3 linked regions of the Homo sapiens genome follow. The protein of the gene in region 3 interacts with the protein of the main gene of each other region in a pairwise test. Each region holds a gene or a part of one and is shown on either strand. Other genes may lie near its edges. The genes, in order: UQCRC1, PFDN1 and PFDN2.

Evidence for each region.
Region 1: the proteins of PFDN2 (region 3) and UQCRC1 interact in binary tests that used the Homo sapiens proteins (3 or more experiments, as listed by UniProt).
Region 2: the proteins of PFDN2 (region 3) and PFDN1 interact in binary tests that used the Homo sapiens proteins (3 or more experiments, as listed by UniProt).

What each region holds. Positions count from the first base shown.
Region 1 is NC_000003.12:48,603,015-48,606,667, reverse strand, and holds part of UQCRC1 (cytochrome b-c1 complex subunit 1, mitochondrial precursor), read left to right. Parts: intron 1-811; coding exon 812-898; intron 899-1,517; exon of another isoform or gene 1,518-1,748; intron 1,749-1,887; coding exon 1,888-2,017; intron 2,018-2,236; coding exon 2,237-2,435; intron 2,436-3,024; coding exon 3,025-3,104; intron 3,105-3,653. UniProt on the Homo sapiens protein: Component of the ubiquinol-cytochrome c oxidoreductase, a multisubunit transmembrane complex that is part of the mitochondrial electron transport chain which drives oxidative phosphorylation.
Region 2 is NC_000005.10:140,282,455-140,286,107, reverse strand, and holds part of PFDN1 (prefoldin subunit 1), read left to right. Parts: intron 1-3,653. UniProt on the Homo sapiens protein: Binds specifically to cytosolic chaperonin (c-CPN) and transfers target proteins to it. Binds to nascent polypeptide chain and promotes folding in an environment in which there are many competing pathways for nonnative proteins.
Region 3 is NC_000001.11:161,111,468-161,115,120, forward strand, and holds part of PFDN2 (prefoldin subunit 2), read right to left. Parts: intron 1-3,653. UniProt on the Homo sapiens protein: Binds specifically to cytosolic chaperonin (c-CPN) and transfers target proteins to it. Binds to nascent polypeptide chain and promotes folding in an environment in which there are many competing pathways for nonnative proteins.

The sequences.
Region 1 (3,653 bases), on a different chromosome or scaffold from region 3:
GGTTCAAGCAATTCTGCCTCAGCCTCCCAAGTAGCTAGGACTACAGGCACGTGCCACCACACCTGGCTAATTTTTGTATTTTTAGTAGAGACAGGGTTTCACTATATTGGCCAGGCTGGTCTCGAACTGCTGACCTCGTAATCCACCTGCCTTGGCCTCCCAAAGTGCTGGGATTACAGGTATAAGCCACCGCGCCCAGCCTGTGGTGCGTGTTTCACAGCAACCAGGAGGCTGTCAAGAAAATTAATATTACCTTATTGGGTGCCAAGGCAACACTGTTTGGTGTTCAGAGCTGATTAAAAACAACAACAAAAAAGATATTATAGGAACAATATTTAGTGTGATAAAATATACAGTCTAAACCAATAGTCCCTTCCTTAATGATGAAAGGATAAAATCATTGCCAGAACAAAGGCAGCGTGTAATTTTTAGAAAGGAAAAAATAAGTTGTTATTTGCAAATGATATGTTGTATGCTTAGACAAAAACAAATAATTAACTGAAAATTGAGAGTGAATTTAAGGATTTGTATGCTGGTGAGACCAGGTAAATGTGCACAGTTAGAAGTGTCCCTGTGGGTCCTTGATAGCCAATCAGGAGAGCAATGATGTGGTGTGACGAGTCATTCGGCTGCCCCTGTTTTCCAAGCATGACTGTGTCCCCAAGCACAGGGGTCCTGCTGGGGCAGCTCTCCCTGACTCCAGGATTCATAAGTCCCTGCCTGGGGCTTGTACTGAGTCACTCAGGTGGGGTGTGAGTAGGGGGCTGGGGAGTGGTTTGTTTGTAACCTTTTCTGGTGGCTTCTTGACCAGGTGGGAGTGTGGATTGATGTTGGCAGCCGTTTTGAGACTGAGAAGAATAATGGGGCAGGCTACTTTTTGGAGCATCTGGCTTTCAAGGTGAGGCTCTTAAAGTCTGTCTCCTCTGGGCTTAGGGCTGCCTGTTGTCCCTCCTGAGGATGAAGGTCAGAAAAATTAGCCTGATTATGGGCCTCAGTTGCGGGGCTGATGTCTGGCTGGCTTTCCTAAAAGGAGCCACATGAGCTTAACCTCTCCTGAGTGGGCACGTATCTGATGAGCCCCTGCCTGAGGCCCTCAGAGCCAAGAGGACCCAAGGAACCATAGGAGCCCCACTTTTCACCAGAGAAGCCAGGCCTGTGGAACACACGTAGATATGCACATGCATTTTAACAAACCCACAGACATGGGCATGCATGCTTGCTTATGAAATGTTCTTCTCTGGTGGAATATCTAGGCATCCCTTGGTTGTAAAGACCCATGTTTTTTAAAGGAATGAAAAACATGGAGAAGGATTATGGGGTGGGCAGGGCCATGGAGCCATAGTAGGCAACCTAGCCAGCTGCAATGTCACAGGTATGTGTGCAGAATTAACGTGTGTGTGCACACCAAGAGATAGCACCACTGTTCTCCACACACAGGACTAGGATTGGGTCCCACAGAGGCCACTAGCATGTATTCACAAACATACAGTCATGGGAATGGCATGGGAGGAGTGGGTTCTATCACTTGAACACAGGTGTGGGCTTACCTGACCATGGCTGTCAATAAGGAGGGGGGAGGTGTACTGGTAATGATCCCCACAGCTTGTTGGTAAGCTGTTACAGGAGCTTTAGGCAACACTTGCTCTGGCCATGCCCTTCAGTCCTGGCCCTGGCTATCTCTGTTCTGTTGGCGCATGATGCCATGGTTTTGGTCACCTCAAGGCCTGCTTAGTGCTTGGTAAACAGACTCTGGGATCTGTGTCCCCAGAGTCTATGCTGAGGGAGGTACCTGTGGACCAGTGGTCCTGCTGGGTGTTTAGCCTCTGAGGACAGGGTTCTTGGGTTCCTGTGTAGCTCCTGATTGTTCTGGTTGATATCTGGTTCCAGGGAACAAAGAATCGGCCTGGCAGTGCCCTGGAGAAGGAGGTGGAGAGCATGGGGGCCCATCTTAATGCCTACAGCACCCGGGAGCACACAGCTTACTACATCAAGGCGCTGTCCAAGGATCTGCCGAAAGGTAACACCTGGAGGAAGAGGCGGGGACAGAGGGCAGGGAAGCAGAGGACAGCTACCTAGGAGCCCCTGGCTGACCACAGAATCATATTACCCTTAGCGTATGGCTTTGCAGCTGGGCAACTAGGGGTGGGCAGCAGGAGATGCCAGGCCTGGGGATTTTGTGCTGTCGTTGGTCTGCAGTGGTCCACCTGGCACCTAAACATGTCCTCCTTGCATCTAGCTGTGGAGCTCCTGGGTGACATTGTGCAGAACTGTAGTCTGGAAGACTCACAGATTGAGAAGGAACGTGATGTGATCCTGCGGGAGATGCAGGAGAATGATGCATCTATGCGAGATGTGGTCTTTAACTACCTGCATGCCACAGCATTCCAGGGCACACCTCTAGCCCAGGCTGTGGAGGGGCCCAGTGAGAATGTCAGGTGAGAGTTGGCTGGCCTTGTGGGGGGATGCTTGCTCCATTCTGGCCTGGCCAGACCCTTTCCAGGTCACATTTTTAGTTGGCTAGCTGTCGGGGTTATTTTCCTGAGTTATGCAACTGGAGACAGTTTCTGTATCCATGTGGTCCAGTGAGTCTTTTTTAATGGCTTTGTGGGCTTCACTTGAATTTTGGGCTTTGTTTTAAGGTATGTTTTGGTGCATGTCCTGACAGTCCAAGGGCGAAGTGTCTGGGTGTCCCCTCCATGTGGTCTCTTGTCTCCTTTGTGGATGGCTCCGGGAGCTTTGATGCTGCCCTTTTGAGAGTCCCACAGTGTTGGCTCACGCCTTCTCAGAGAAGACTATGAGCCTGTCCTGAAGTCAGGCATGAGGCAAGGGCAGACAAGGGTTGCCCTCTGGGCCCTGGAGGGGTGGGTGGCAGAGACAGGGGAAGGGGGTTGGGGAGTGTGCTAGGGCCCACTCTTCGGAGAAACCATGCCTCTCCTAGTCTGCCTCCTCAGTCCCATTCATGCATGTACCCCAACTCACTCCAGTGTGGTAGAGGTGTTGACACACTGACCATATGTCTTGTAGGAAGCTGTCTCGTGCAGACTTGACCGAGTACCTCAGCACACATTACAAGGCCCCTCGAATGGTGCTGGCAGCAGCTGGAGGTGAGTGATGGAATCACTGAAGTCCTGGGTAGTGGGGTCCCAGCCTTGGTTATCAAAGCCGAGGTCCTGGTTCCCACCATAGGGGACCTTTCACCCCAGGGGACTCTGCTCCCACCCTAACCTTGAGGGGAATGACCTTCCTCCTGTGCTCTCTGAGGTGGGATAGGATTCTACCCTGCCGCCACCACTGGGACTGGTTACACAGGATGCTGTCCCTCTGGTACAGGTCTGTCTTAGCCCCACCTGGTTCTAGGATACTGAGTTCATGGGCTGGTAGGGGATGTAAGCTCCTGGCCTTGTTCCTTGTGGCCTTGCCCTTGGGAGAGCCAGCCATTAGTTGTGTGTTGATGCATGCCTGATAACAAACCAAGAAGTGCCTTGAAAGGAAGGCACAGAAGGGTGGGGAAGATTTCACTGGGGACTCAGAGTTGGAGTTTGGGGGAGGGGCTTTTTAAAGCACCTGTAGTTTGAACAGAAGCCTGAAAGGTGGTGAGTGTTATTTAGGTGGGGTGTGGGGAGCTGAGCGCAGGGGAAGAGCAGTGTCATGGT
Region 2 (3,653 bases), on a different chromosome or scaffold from region 3:
TGAGTTTTTACTTACTTACTAACTTACTATATTGACATCTTTACATGTCAATAAAAAAAATATTTTTTTTTAAATTTCGGTTTGGTTTTTTATTTAATTAGTCATTCTTTTTTAAAAAAATTTATTTATTTTTTAGACATGGGGCATTGCTATGTTGCCTGGGCTGGACTTGAACTCTTGGATTTAAGCAATCCTCACACCTCAGCTTTCTGAGTAGCTAGGACTACAGGTGCATGCCATTATGCCTGGCTGCCCCCTTGGTTTTATCTCCTGTTTTGTATCCTATTTCTGTGCCAGTGTGGATACTTAAGGTCTCCAGGATTCAGCATAAACTCTCAGGATGAAAGCCAATTTACTGCTGTCTTACATTCCTGAATTCCCAGTTTCACTTCACTTTGGACCTTTGTGGAATCCTTCCTTTTGTGTTAGTTCAACAAAATGTTAAAAAAAAATTTTTTTTTCCTTTGTTTCTAATCAGGAGTGTTCAGGGTATCTACTCTTCATTATGCCAATAACAGAAGTCTGTAACTCACTGAGCAGTCCACAATGTGGATGTGCCATAAAGTTTTAATCACTTCCTTACTAAGGAAGTGATTAAAGTAAGAAATAAATTCAATTTAAAAAAATTTTAAAAAAAGAAGTTCAATTTATTTCTACTTGCTTCCACGCTAAAAATTACGACGTAAAAATTCAGTAACTTTCCTCACCAGTGGAGTTAGGCAAAGAAGCAAGATAGGCTCATTCTTTTTTTTTTTTTTTTGAGATGGAGTCTCGCTCTGTTGCCCAGGCTGGAGTGCAGTGGCGCGATCTCGGCTCACTGCAAACTCCACCTCCCGGGTTCACGCCATTCTCCTGAAGATAGGCTCATTCTTATGTCTTTTCTATGCTGCTTAATTTGTGAATACCCTGAAACCTAAATGCTAATAGGATACGTTTTTAGACACCCTCTAAAAATTTCCCACCCAAAGTGAACTCGTCATAAGCATTTTGTTGTTTCTGAATAGCATATGTCTAGGTGACCATACTTTGGAAATTGTGTCCAAAATGCAGCAGTGCAAGTGATCTGGGATTGTGTTTTGGGCAGGTGAACAATGGTTTTGATTCATACTGAGTTATAAGAAAGTGGAAGTTGTACCAAACTGCAGGATGATTTAGAAAACGGAGTCTGATGTTTCTCAAATAATCAAAACCGAAAGTCTCAGAATTATGTTTTCAGATGGCATAATTACAAATAAATGAGGAAGTGAAATAGCAGGTTACAAGTCCTTGAGAGTGGACAGTGCAGAGGCACGTGGCACTGATTTCCAGGTCAAAGAAGAGGCCTTTTGCAAAGCATCAACTCGAATTCAGGTTATATAATCCTGAGTATTTTAAGCATGTTATCTGCATATTATTTGTCATGAGAGAATACTTTCCCTCTTCATGGTTTATTTTTCCTTATTGGTACATTTTGAACTCCAGAATTCTTTATTTACTATTTGGCTTTCCATAAACAATCAGGCAGAATGACTATGAGATTCTCTACATTGAGCAACTGTGTACATAATATTTGCTTATGATAAGACTTATATTATCATGATAAATCCTTTCTCTTCACATAGTATCTGATAATCCAATGCCCTTTTAAACAATAAGAAAGATGTTTTCCAAAGACTTTTTTTCAGAAATCAGATGTTTCTTGGAGCCTTTTCCAGTCTTCATACAATATATCTTTGCCATTTTTTAAATTGAGGACTAAACCAAACTTTCCATAAGTTTTTGTGTTTGAATTTTTACTGTGTAACTACTCTTTGAGGTAGACATTTGCATTTACCCAACATTCATCCTTGTTAAAACTTGCGTGGCTGAGATGTCCTTAGGTTTGTAGTAGTAAGTTGGCCAGCTTCGGTGGAATCTCTCTGGCCTTTGAAGTTGGCACAGTCCAGTATAGCTACCTCAAAGGATATGTGGTCATGGAAAAACGTGTTTTTGTTGTTGAGTGTTCTTGCTTTCTAGTAATTTTATTTTCTGCTCAAGAGATTTAGTATCTGTTCAGATACTTTATTTTTAAAGGCCACATAAGTAATGACTTGACCTCTAATCTTAGCTTTGAAATTTTCCCAGACACTAATAAAGATGATGTCTGATGACCTTTTATTTGAGAATAGTACTCATTGGCCAGCTATCAGTGCTACTTAAAAATGTATATTTTACTCAAAAAATTATTTCCATGGCTAAAAGACTTTCTCAGTAAAATCACACATGTCATGACATAATTTGGTGACTCTTGCACCTTGTTTTAGAATAGTTTTTACATAACATTACTGAGACTTAGTACTGTTCAAAACAACTCTTCTCTTCAAATACAAATATGAGTTAGTTCTGAGAAAAATATTCTGTAAACCATAATCTTATCTGAAATAGCACCCATCTCTTGGATCCAGTAAGAATATTTTAGACATGAAGGGTTCTATAGTAAAAGACCTGGAATTAATCCTTGTTTTGCATGAATGTGGGCTCTCTTTCCTGTAAATATACAGTAAGGTTTTACAAAGAATCAAGTTACTACTGAAGACTAAGATCATCAGTTGGGCTGGGCTGGGCGTGGTGGCTCATGCCTGTAATCCCAGCACTTTGGGAGGCCGAGGCGGGCAGATCACGAGGTCAGGAAATCGAGACCATCCTGGCTAACATGGTGAAACCCTGTCTCTACTAAAAAATAGAAAAAATTAGCCAGGCGTGGTGGTGGGCGCCTGTAGTCCCAGCTACTCGGGAGGCTGAGGCAGGAGAATGGCATGAACCCGGGAGGTGGAGCTTGCAGTGAGCCAAGATCATGCCACTGCACTCCAGCCTGGGCAACAGAGCGAGACTCCGTCTCAAAAAAAAAAATTATCTGGGCTGGCCGCATTAGGATATAAGCTTAATAATTAGTGGAGTAAAAGAAGTTCTTCAGATTTTATTAATATGTGTGGTAAGGCTTAGTTATGAAGAAGAGGGGACAAGGCAGTTTCCTTCCAGGTGTTGGGGCATAGCTAATTGCCCTTTTTGGTCTGTTTTTACTTGTCTTATATCTATAATAACGGACTCTCTTGATAAGAACCCACCTAGGCACAATGATGTTTTTGTGGGGTTGGCAGAGGAAACTGCATGTTGCTACCTTGATGTGTTTTCTCGTTTGACTTTTTGTTAAGAGATGATGTTTAGTTCTTTGTTGCTGAACTCTGTTAGTGCAAAGAGAAGAAAAATCTTGCTTAATTAATTGCAATATTAAATTGAAATATATTTTAGCTTCCTTAGACAGTCCTGAAAGAGATTTGCATAACTGGGGTCTTCCCTTGGTTCCAGTGGAGGGGAAATATTTCAGTTCACTTACTTGGGGCTATAAAAGTTTGTTCTTCCTTTCCCTGAAGCAAGAATTGTGAACATAAAGTCATAAAACAGTTTCAGTGTTAATTTTTAAAACTTCTCCATATTTCCACCCTCATCAGTGGTAAATAATGTGCCTGATGTAAAATGGAAAAAGTTGAAAATTTCCACTTGTACATTTTGAGCTTTTCAGAGGTACTATATACACTCTGGAAATAATAATAAAAGATACTAAGGCTTATACAGTGCTTTTTGTTTGAGGAACTCATATAAACACTAATGCATTGATCCTAACACAGTGCTTGATT
Region 3 (3,653 bases):
TGTTTAACAAATCCCTGGACTATACCCACTAAAAGTCAGTAGCAACCCCTTTGATTTGTGACAACCAAAAATGTCTCCAGACACTGCCAGATGTCTCCTAGGAAAAGATAATGCCAGTTGAGAATCACTGCTACAGGGTAACAATGAGAACTAACTGAGATAATAGGTCAAGTGCCCGATACAATGTAGATCTTCGACTCCCCTTTGGTTTCCAGGTCCCTTCAGTTCTCCTTCCTATCTCAAGCCTCCTTCTTTCTCCTTTCTGAAAGTTCTTCCTCTTTCACTCCCACAATGGCCACAGGATCTAAGATTCTATTCATAGCACTTCTTCATTACCTACATTATTTTTGAAATTATTTTTTATTGATTCATAATCATATTTTCATGGTATTGTGATAATTTGATATATTCATATAATCAAATCAGGGTAACCTATACTATTTCAAGTGGCATTCTTAGCTACTTCTATAGTTCCAGCAATTGCCTTTATTCTACTTGCCTGCAAAACCAGGCCTTTTCAGAAATTCTAGTCCCACATTTACAAGTTAGAGGAAGGAGCTTTTTTGTGCCTGACAGAAATGGCTTAACGTCAGACCATGACAAGTTACTTCTTTTCTGAATGTTTCTTCACCAATAAAATACAGATTAATACCTGTCTCACAGAATGCATAAGTATTAATTACTTCTTTTCTGATGTTTCTTCACCAATAAAATACAGATAATACCTGCCTCACAGAATGTTGTAAGGATTAAGTAATTACATCAAGAACTTAGGACAATATCTATCATATAACAAGTTTTCAATAAATAGTAGCTGCTATTATTACAGATCATCTCCACCTAAATGTCCCATGGATATCTTAAACTCATGTTGTTCAAAGCTGAAGTGATCTTATCTCTTCTATTTCTGCTACTGACATCACTCTAGGCCTCCTGGTAGGAAACCTTAGTTTCATCTTTTGTTTTGTTTTTAAAGATGGGGTCTCCCTATGCTGCTCAGACTGGTGAAAAGTGGTTATTCACAGGCACAATTATAGCACACTATAGCTTCAAACTCCCAGACTCAAGTGATCCTCCTGTCTCAGCTTCCTGAGTAGCTGGGACTACAGGCACTTGCCACCATACCCAGGTTCATCTTTGAACATACCATAATCCCATGAACTGCCAAATGTATTGCACTTAGTTTAGCAATTTCTCTTAGGCTCACTGACATAACCCTAGTTCAGATGTTCATTACATTCTTATCTGAATTACTGCAATAGTCTTCTAAATGATCCTATTTTTAGACTCCCCAAACCTACCCTACACACTGCTAATTTAATCTTCCTAACACTTAGATGACATAGAAAAATGTTCAACATATACTATTAGGCTTAAAAAACAGATTACAAACCAGTACATACTGTAGTATAATCCTAATTTTATAAAATATGTAAAAAAAAAAAAAAGCTCCCCCTTCCATCCACACATATATACACAAAAAGACAAAGGAGGGGGGAAAAAATCTCTCAAAGGATATACTCCTAAATGGCAAGAAAAGTTATCTCTGGATAGTTGGATTATGGGCAATTTATTTCCTGGTTTGAACTTTTTCCTTTGTTTTCTGCAGTTCCGACAATAAATGTATTATTTTATATAAGAGTTAAACAATTAATAATATAACATATATCCTTCTGTGACTTCCTCACTGCTTATGTTAAAAAGTCATAAATTCTTTGGCATGCACTCAAAGACCTCTATGGCCTTATTCAACTACTCTCCTCTTATCATATTCCCTACTTTCTATTCCCACTGCTACCTGTTCAAATCCATCCACTCCTTCAGGGTTCTGCTCAAATACCTCTAACATAATCATGGCATAAGTGAAAAAAATACCTGATTCTTAAGTCCCTCATTTAAAAATCCTGCTCTTCCAGTTACTGACCTTGGGCAAGTTAACTAAAGCCTCTGAAATTAAAATGTCCTCACCTATAAATGGAGGACAACACAACCTACTTCAAATGGCAGTAATTGAATAACAGAAGGTAGGCCTGAGCGGTGGCTCAGCTCATGCCTGTAATCCTAGCACTTTGGGAAGCCAAGGCAGGTGGACTGCTTGAGCCCAAGAGTTCAAGACCAGCCTGGGCAACATGGCAAAACTCCATCTCTACAAGAAATACAAAAATTAGCTGGGCAGGGTGGCACACGCATGTAGTCCCAGTAACTTGGGAGGCTGAGGTAGAAGGATCACCTGAGCCTTGGGAGGTTGAGGCTGCAGTGAGCCGTGATCGCACCACTGCACTCCAGCCTGGGCAACAGAATGAGACCCTGTCTCAGTCAGTAACAGAAGGTAAAACAAGTGTCTAACACAATGTGTTATTTGCTTCCATCTTGTTTGTAAGGGACATATGTGGCTCAAATTTGCAGCAGTGATAAATCTTGTAATGTTTTACCCAGTGTTCTCTCCAGAATAAACAAAGGCAAGAGAATGTTAATCAAGGAACAGCCTCAAAACTCACTTATCACACTTCCTCAGTTTCCTGAGGGAAGTTTGAGGGGTTCTCTTTAGCTCCCCTAAAACAGTGGTTCCACTCTTGTTCTACTTCTTTTTTCACTTTCTGTACAAACTATGGAAAGTGATCATTTTTATCCATAACCACGGCTTTATCATCCATAAACTCAATTCTCAAATCTGTATCTCCAACTCAGATTTCTTACTGTATCTCAAGATTTAAAAATCAAAGTGTCTACTGAATGTTTAACCTGGGTGTCCCACAAGAAACCTAAACTCAAAATCCTAAAATAAACTTACATTTCCCCCAAAATTGTCTGTCTTCCTACATTCCTTATGGCACCATTATCCACCAAAGACAGAAACCTGAGAGACATCTTATATTCCTCTTTTACCCCCTTTTCTCCATATTCAAGTTCTGTAATCCACCTCAAACATTAAGTCCCACCTGCATCCCAAACATGCCAGGCAGTTTCACGCCTTAGTGTTTTGGAACACATTTATTCCCTCTACCTAGAAAATCTTCCACTTCCTTCTTTGCTTGACTAACTTCTCTCATCCTTTAGAATTGAGCTGAAGGATTTTTCTCCTCTAGAAAACAAAAGCTAACTAGCATTTACTAAACACACACTATATTCTAATCACTGTGCAAAACACTTCGCATGCATTGTCTTGCCTAATACTCTAAATTCAGTGATGAGGTAGGTATTGTTATGTTTCTACAGATGGGGGAGGCCAAGATGTAACTCATGGGAGGTCATATATAAATAGTAAATAGTAGAAATGAAATTCAAACTTAGGTCTGACCCTAGTGCATAAGAATGCTCTTAGCCACCCTACTATACCACAGCTTCCCTTATCCAGCCCCTACCCCCACAATCCTACAACCTCGTGATTAGTTAGGGGTCTCTCCTCTGCTGCCATAATGAAGGGATTGTGCAGCACACTATAAATCTTTATTGTTTGGTTTGTCTTTTCTCAAATGAGTCTGAGTAAAGCAATTTGAAGACAAAGTCTGTTTCATGTACAATAGTCTCTCATTATCCAGAGTTATCCAATGTCTGAAAATAAATGGAAAATTCCAGAAATAAACAATTCATACTTTTTGTGTGTTTGTTTTTTGAGACAAGAGTCTCGCTCTTTGCCCAGGCTGGAGTGCAAT